Linked DNA regions of Homo sapiens. The protein of the gene in region 1 interacts with the protein of each later gene in a pairwise test. Each region holds a gene or a part of one and is shown on either strand. Other genes may lie near its edges.

Region 1 (3,749 bases):
CCCTTCACAGGAAAAGTTTGCCATCTCATGTCCTAGATTATCAACACTTTCATAAATAAGAGAAGTTAGGGCTGATAAACTAAAAAGTACTTTATTTTAGCTACTGTACAGGTTCCTGATTCCAAAAACAACAAAGTGAATATTTAAACACTAAACCAAATATTGATAGCCTACAAACATATTCTGACTTATAATATTGTCATTAACTTGAAAAAATACCTTTTTGCATAGTGAGTATATGGGAATATATATTATATTCTTGAAAATAACTACTGATCTAAGTGGAAGGGTAATCAAATAAGTTTAGGTATGTGCAAAACAGATTGGGCTTTGACATGGAATACCAGTTTTTAAACGTATTTCAACTTTTAAATACTAAATGTTTTTAAGTACGATTTTCTCTGGCAGTTTAACATCAGACCAAACTATTTCTTGTTCACTCCATTCACAAATTCTCCAGTATAAAACTTCAGTTATTAGCAATTTCAATTATTTCAGGGTAACAGCAAAAGTCCATATGTAATCACTTCAAATTGGGCAAATAATTCAAATCACACCCAATGCCAGTAACTATAAAGCTAGCCCACAACTCAACTGGCAGCCACATCTTAACCCTGCATTGTTCCCTGCTTCTCACGAAATTCTATTAGCTCCCATATAGTGTTTGTGTGGAAATGTCCCCCAAAAGAAACTTACAGTTTAAAATGTTTTTTTTCGGTTATGTTTTACTATAGTTTATGGGGACATTATTTGTAATACTTAAGAACTTAGAAATTCTGTAAGTCCCAGATAAATCCTTTGTGGATATTCGGAAACTATGGAAACTGTAGTTTTGTTAGGATTACAATCAAGGCTCAACAAATATGTATTGGCAATAAGCCTAAACCTTTACATTGTTGCAGCTATTTCAAGTAATGATTTGACTTCTGTAATTTATAAGTTTTCGTTCGGATCAATTTTGCTATCCCCATTCCATTTTAGTTATCAAAACAATTCTATTTCTTTTTCTTTTATTTCCTGTGTTGCTACAAAAAAAGGCTTTTAAGATTGGACTTATTTGAAATGAAACAGAAAGAAGACATAAGAGAAGCATATGCAACTAAAGACAATGCCCCTGGGCAGGGCCTGATGAGAAACATGGACCCCGCAACAGGGAAAATAACTTGAAACCCACGCAAGAAGATATTCCTTATGTATTCGTTCAATATTTATTCAAGGGTGAAGCCAAGTGCTCTATGGAGGAAGGGTGGAGCAAGAATCCGGGTGTTGCCCAACTTCTCCTGGTTAATGCACCACAGTCAAAGAATCCACCTCTGGTCCCAACTTACACACACTGCTCAGCAAAAAGTGGTGCGGAGTCAATTAGACTCGCCCTCCTTAAATGTCAATTAGTCAACAAATACGCCTTCACCCGAATGTGCCATCCCTCAGGAGGAGGGAGGTGGATCTCAGCTTCCACCCCAAATAGCAGCATACAGCATTCTCTATAATTACACACAGCATACAGGTGGGAACTGTTAACGACTGTTATCTTCCTTTCGTTACGATTTCAGTGCTGTTTTGACGCCCCAGTGATGTCTTTAGTGGTTGTTGCATGGCCCAGCCGCCGCATGGGATCTGCGCCCGGAGCCTGCCTTTAAGCCTCTGAGCATCCACAGGGTAGGAGGCGCAGAGGAGACCGGAGCCGCGGGGCCAGGGTGAAGAACTGTCCTGCCTCGCTGGGTAATGCGGTCCAGCCCCGGACCCACGCCCTGGCCTCTCTCCGGGTCCGCCGCAGCCCCGGCCTGTCAGAATTCGGTTCCCACCCACTCCCAGCTAGTGGAGGTCAGTGCGGTCTCTGACTCCGACCTGCCCAGCGCGGAGTCAGCCGCGGAGACTGCAGCCGCAGCGGAAGGCAGGCTGCCCTGACTGCCGGGAGCGGCTCCACGCAAACTCCTGACGCCTCAGCCAGGCCCCAGAGGCACTGGGCAACCAGGGTGCTCCGCTGCCCGACAGGGGCTGACCAGCGCAGATGCTCGCCCGCCGCCGCCCCCCGCGGACTCCCCACTCCCAGCAGACCCAGTTCTCACCTCTCGGGGCAGCCATGGTTCCCCGACAGCCCCCCGCGGAACTGACGCCCGCCCCCTCCGCGCCCCCGCGCAGGACACCGGGGACCGCCCCTTGTGGTCATAGAGACGAAGCCGCTCGGCCTAGAGCGCCTCGCCGGCCTCCCGGTCGGCCACGCACTAAAACTGGGCTCAGGAATCCAAGCTACACCCCAAAATGGGGAGAACGCGGATCGAAGGGAGGCCTTCCCGGCCGCGTCCTAGGTGACAGGTGTGTGAAATTCGGTTGGGGAGGTAGTTCTGTAAACTGCGTCTCCCCGCCAGCTAAGGAAGTTGAGTGAAGGGAGCGTTGCCGTCTGGGAATCGTAGTCCTCACAAAGGCGTGAGTAGGCGGCAAATAAGGATTTGGGTTTAGCCTTGGGGATTCACTCCTGTCAAAGCTGTTAGAGAAGCTCCCAGAACTCGTAAAGTAACAGAAACTACTTGCGGCAACATTTGTAACTTCCACCTGGCTCATTATCTTCCACTGTTACCTTGTGTTCTAGATAAGTTATAATTTATTCTACATATCGTTCAGAAGTCTTGTGCCTGTTCCATATCGTCAGCAGTCATCGGTTGTATTTACCCAGCCAGGCATTCTAACTAATGATCTTCGCACAACAAAACGGCCTTTAAAAAATCAGATGTATCGGCCGGGCGTGGTGGCTCACGCCTGTAATCCCAGCACTTTGGGAAGTCGAGGCAGATGGATCACCTAAGGTCAGGAGTTCGAGACCAGCCTGGCCAATATGGCGAAACCCCGTCTTTACTAAAAATACAAAAAATTAGCCGGGCGTGGTGGCGCGCACCGGTAATCCCAGCTACTCAGGAGGCCGAAGCGGGAGAATCACTTGAACCCGGGAGATTGCAGTGAGCCGAGATTGCGCCCCTGCACTCCAGCCTGGGCGACACAGCGAGACTTCGTCTCAAAAAACAAAAAAAATTAGATATATCAACAGGCATTTTAACCACTATAATCTCCACTTTCACTAGGGGATGTTAATTAGCTATCATAATTGATATTAGAAATAATTCATTGGTGAAATAAATGATGTTCAAGATATGTGGATTGGTTTAAAATAATATGAAAATACCTCAGCACTTACAGGAATAGGGATGCAAGATTCTGAGCTGCCCAGCAGCCCACACCTTCTGCAGCATGTTCTTTCCCCAAAATTGTCCTTTTAGAGGGTTGGTTGTATACCATTGTCTTGTTAAATATACATATAGATATATCTGGTCTGTTAACATTGTTGGAACATTTTGCATGCCTTATTAGCATCATATTAATATTGGGAGGGGCTCCCAGGAGACCAGAGTTGACTTTGTAGAGGCAGACATTTGATTAATCTCATTTTGCAATAGTGTTGGACTTTTCCTCTACCTGGTAGTAAGTGTGCTCACTGGTGCTAATCTTCCCTTATTGTAATTGATACAGTTTCCACTAGTAGAATTATTCAGTTCTCTACTGTGTATGTACTTATGCATACATTTAAACAATATTCATATATGTACGTGAAATTAATTTTAAAAATTAAAAATATTATATCATATAGTCCTTCGTTTTACAGCTACTGCTTTGTATGGTTTATCTTGTCCCATTTTGGACTATCATTATAGTGTCAGCTTACATCAATTAAGTATAATTTCTAAATGCTCAATTTG
Region 2 (3,749 bases), on another chromosome or scaffold:
GTCCCTCCTCCATCACCACCCACAGACCCTCACACTACAGAGGTGAGTAAGCAGGGATGGTTCTGTCATCCCTGGCTGAGCTGCTGACTGGCTGCTCCTGAAAATCCTGGTTGCCTCCACAGGGACCCCAGGAAAGGTATCCAGAACCATGGAGTCCCACTGCTGTCTGCTCCTCGCCCAGCGTAGAGATGGAGCTGAACTGTGAACCCAGGCCGAGAAAGCCAGCTCGGGCAGGGCCAGCATGGGCATCTCCTGAGACCCCACCGGAAGCCCTGGACACCGTCCATTCTCATGACACGGGACTGAGGGAGCAGGAGGGAGTGACAACAGGTGAGCCCTTCAGAAGTGGTCTGTGGGGAGCCAGTTGGAGAGACATGGGGGCTCCTGGGAGGAGCCAAGGGAGGCCAAATCTCCAGCAGGAGGCCCCCTTTATGGCTTTTCAGTGAATTCAAACAGTGGGAGGAAGGGGCACACCACACACATACACAGAACATGGAAGCTACTGGGATGCCAGATACCAGGCTGGACACTGCACCGGGCCCTGAGGTTTGGCTCTGCAGGCAGATGTGCAGCAAACAGGCCTTCAGGGCGACAGGGTCCTCCAGCATCTCCCAAGGCAGGGCTGGACTGGAGCAGGCACCGACTCCCGCCCACTGATGACTCCCATGGGGGGTTTCCCGATGGGAGGAGGCAGGGGTGGGGCTGGGGAACAAAGACTTTACACGACATAAAATCAAAGGAGCAGCCTCAACCAGTTCTGTAAAATGGGTTTGAGGTTGGGGATCAAGGGGACTCTCAGCATTGCCATGCGGCTATTTACAGAAAGTTATAGACATGCATCTTGATTAAACAAGATTCTGTTCATATGTTTCTAGGTAATTATCTTCTTTTATATATAATTAAATATACACGGATGGGGGCAGATGAGGCTCAAATGGCTTCAGAAGGTTCTTATTTTGTTGTTGCTTAAAAAATAAAGTAATTCATGTGTCTTCAAGTCACAGTGTCCCCTTCTCAATATTGCAGTTCAAAAAACTGGTTAAGTCAAATCCTTGGGGTTCCTGGCCCCTTGGGACCAAAGGGAGAGGGGGAAAAGTCATAGGGTAGGGTTCCCAGACACAATGCAGGATGACCAGTTACATTTGAATTTCAGATAAACAACAAATTATTTTTTAGTATATGTCCCAACTATTTGCCTAGGACATATTTACACTTAATAATTGTTTGTTGTTGAACTGAAATTCAAATGTAACTGGACATCCTGTATTTTTATTTGCCAAATCTGGCAACCATAGCATGGGGCTCAGGGCCACCAGGATCTTGGGACTCCTCCCTGCCTGCCACCACCCAGGGCTCTGAGAAAGGGCCCCAAACAGCTTTAGGTGGGAGGGGCAGAGGAAAGGGAAGGGAAGGGGCAGAGCAGAGGATATGAGGGCAGTTCCTGGCTCAATCTCTTTCTACCTTTGAGTGGGAGGGGACACCCTCAGGGACAGTTTTTCTCTCTGTGAGGCTGGGTGAGACCCAGGACTCAGATGCCTTATGAATTAACCTAGGACATTAAGGGAACATGGAAGCTCTCACTCCCCAAACCCAGGGAGGTTCCTCAACCTCTTTGCTGTCACCCACCCTTACCCCCACCCCACTGCATGGAGGCAGGTTTATAAGAGAGCTGCTTTTACCCACAGGAGGGCTGTAGTGACCTCTCTTCTCCCTCTCGCTGAAGCCTTGGGCCAGCAAAATCATCCCACACTGATTCTGCAGACACAAGTTATGTATGCTTTCCTAGGAAGAAAAAAGATCAGGATCTGAGACTGTGGCCTAATCCCTGCTATCTCATCCTCTACTGAGGGACTCCAGGAAAGTCACTTCTCATTCATGCCAAGCACCTGCCTACTGTCTGAGATTGCCCCAGCATTCCTTACCCAGCCTTCCCCAGGCCTCAGCTTCCACTTCCAAAGCCCAAAAATCTGCCTGTAGCTCTGGCAGAGTTAGCATCCCTTCTGGAACAATTATTCAGGGAGGAAGAAGAAAACGAACTTTCAGACTTTACCCCAGTTTCTGGATGGGATTAGGCTTGTTTTCATGGTCTCAGCTTCTCTAAAAATCACCTCTATACTACTTTCCTTTCTCTGGAACAGACTTTGAGATGAAAACTCACAGCCCCAGAGGCGTCCAGAACCCCTTACTAGCCAGACACCCTAACTCTATCCTGCTTAGTGCCTACACCCCAGTACCCTGACATCCCCAGAAATAAACCTGCCCAGCAGTGAGTGTTTGGCATGATGCCCTGTGGTTTAAGCTACGTCAGCCCTCAGGTATGGAAAACACACAAGCAGAAGCATGTTCCCACCAAGCCCATGGACCAAGACAGATGCCATCCACTACGTGGCATATCAGGACCAGCTGGGACCTGAGGAAGGCACTGCTCCCCACACCCACACTGGCTCCACACTGGTGTCAACGTTCAAAATCACTCAGCAACCTGTCCCCACCCCTCAAGGCTCCTCACTAGCAGTGGGCTCAGAGTAATAAAAATCCAGCCCTGGTCACCAGGCACATAGACACCCAGACCACCAGAGGTTCCTACCATTGCCTTTCCTCCCTGTCAAGGGAATGCAAATCTTGGGCTTTGGAAGGGCTGAATGAAGTTCATGAATGGAAAAGAATCCAGGTGGTAGAAGATGAATTGGGAAAGGGCAAAGGAGTAAAGGTAGAGGGGATATTGACAAGGGGGTCTCCATGAGTGAGTCTGTGGGATATGGGTGAGAAGAGTGAGTCTGGGGAGAGACCCTGAGAAAGCACCAAAATCCCATAACTCTGGGGTTGGGAGAAGAGTCCAGTGACTTCTGATGTCCATACCAGGAAATCCCACTCTGTGGCCACCCAGATTCTGAAAACACCCTATTGTCCTACAACTCTCTACCATGACCACACCTTTGGTCCCAAGGACCGCAGTTCATAATCCTGATCAGAGTCTTACCTTCCCATCATTAAGTACACACACACACACACACACACACACCAGTAAAAACATAACTTCCCATGTACCACTAACAAGACAAAGAAGGATCTCCAAGAGACAGGCAGGCTTTCCAGTCTGTTTCTGGTGGGGGTATTCCCTCATTTCCCTCACTCCTTCATCCAAAAAACAAAGCAAAACCAAAAGCCCCTTCCCCCTTTTTAAAATAAAATAAAAAGACACTCTGCAACTTCTTCACACTGGATCCTCAAAGCCTGATTCCCTCCAACACTGTCCATCTGTCTTGGGTGTCTACAGGAAGCTGAAGTGGCCCAGATGGGGCAGGATAGAGATGCTGCCATTTGTGCTGGGAAAGAGAGATACTCAGGCTTCTGGAGAAGCCATGAGTTTTCTGTGGTGAAAAAATGGCAAGGGCCTGAGGGCTTCATGGATGGAAAAGAGAGGTCAAAGGAAGGCAGGCAAGGAGGGCTGGCCTCTGGCCACAAGGGGACCTCACTCTGTTGTCCAGGCTGAAGGATTGGAAGAAGACTCAGTGCAAACCTGACTAACATATATATGGCTTTTATATCAGTGCTGGGGACAAAAGGTGAACAGGGAATGGGATACAACTGAGCATGGGTAGAAACCCTAGAAGGTCACCTCTGCTACTCATTTGGAATGGATGCCCTTTGTTTCTTAGCATTCATAGAGAGAAGCCCCCTAATGGTAGGACGGGTCCTTCCCATAGGTCTCCCTGGGCCACTCCAGCTACCTATCAGCTCTCCAGCAT

The links. The genes of interacting proteins can lie anywhere in the genome.
Region 2: the proteins of SLC35A1 (region 1) and SYT2 interact in binary tests that used the Homo sapiens proteins (3 or more experiments, as listed by UniProt).

What each region holds. Positions count from the first base shown.
Region 1 is NC_000006.12:87,471,340-87,475,088, reverse strand, and holds the start of SLC35A1 (CMP-sialic acid transporter), read right to left. Parts: upstream 2,116-3,749; 5' UTR 2,086-2,115; coding exon 2,070-2,085; intron 1-2,069. UniProt on the Homo sapiens protein: Transports CMP-sialic acid from the cytosol into the Golgi apparatus, functioning as an antiporter that exchanges CMP-sialic acid for CMP. Binds both CMP-sialic acid and free CMP, but has higher affinity for free CMP.
Region 2 is NC_000001.11:202,591,706-202,595,454, forward strand, and holds part of SYT2 (synaptotagmin-2), read right to left. Parts: 3' UTR 1-3,749. UniProt on the Homo sapiens protein: Exhibits calcium-dependent phospholipid and inositol polyphosphate binding properties. May have a regulatory role in the membrane interactions during trafficking of synaptic vesicles at the active zone of the synapse.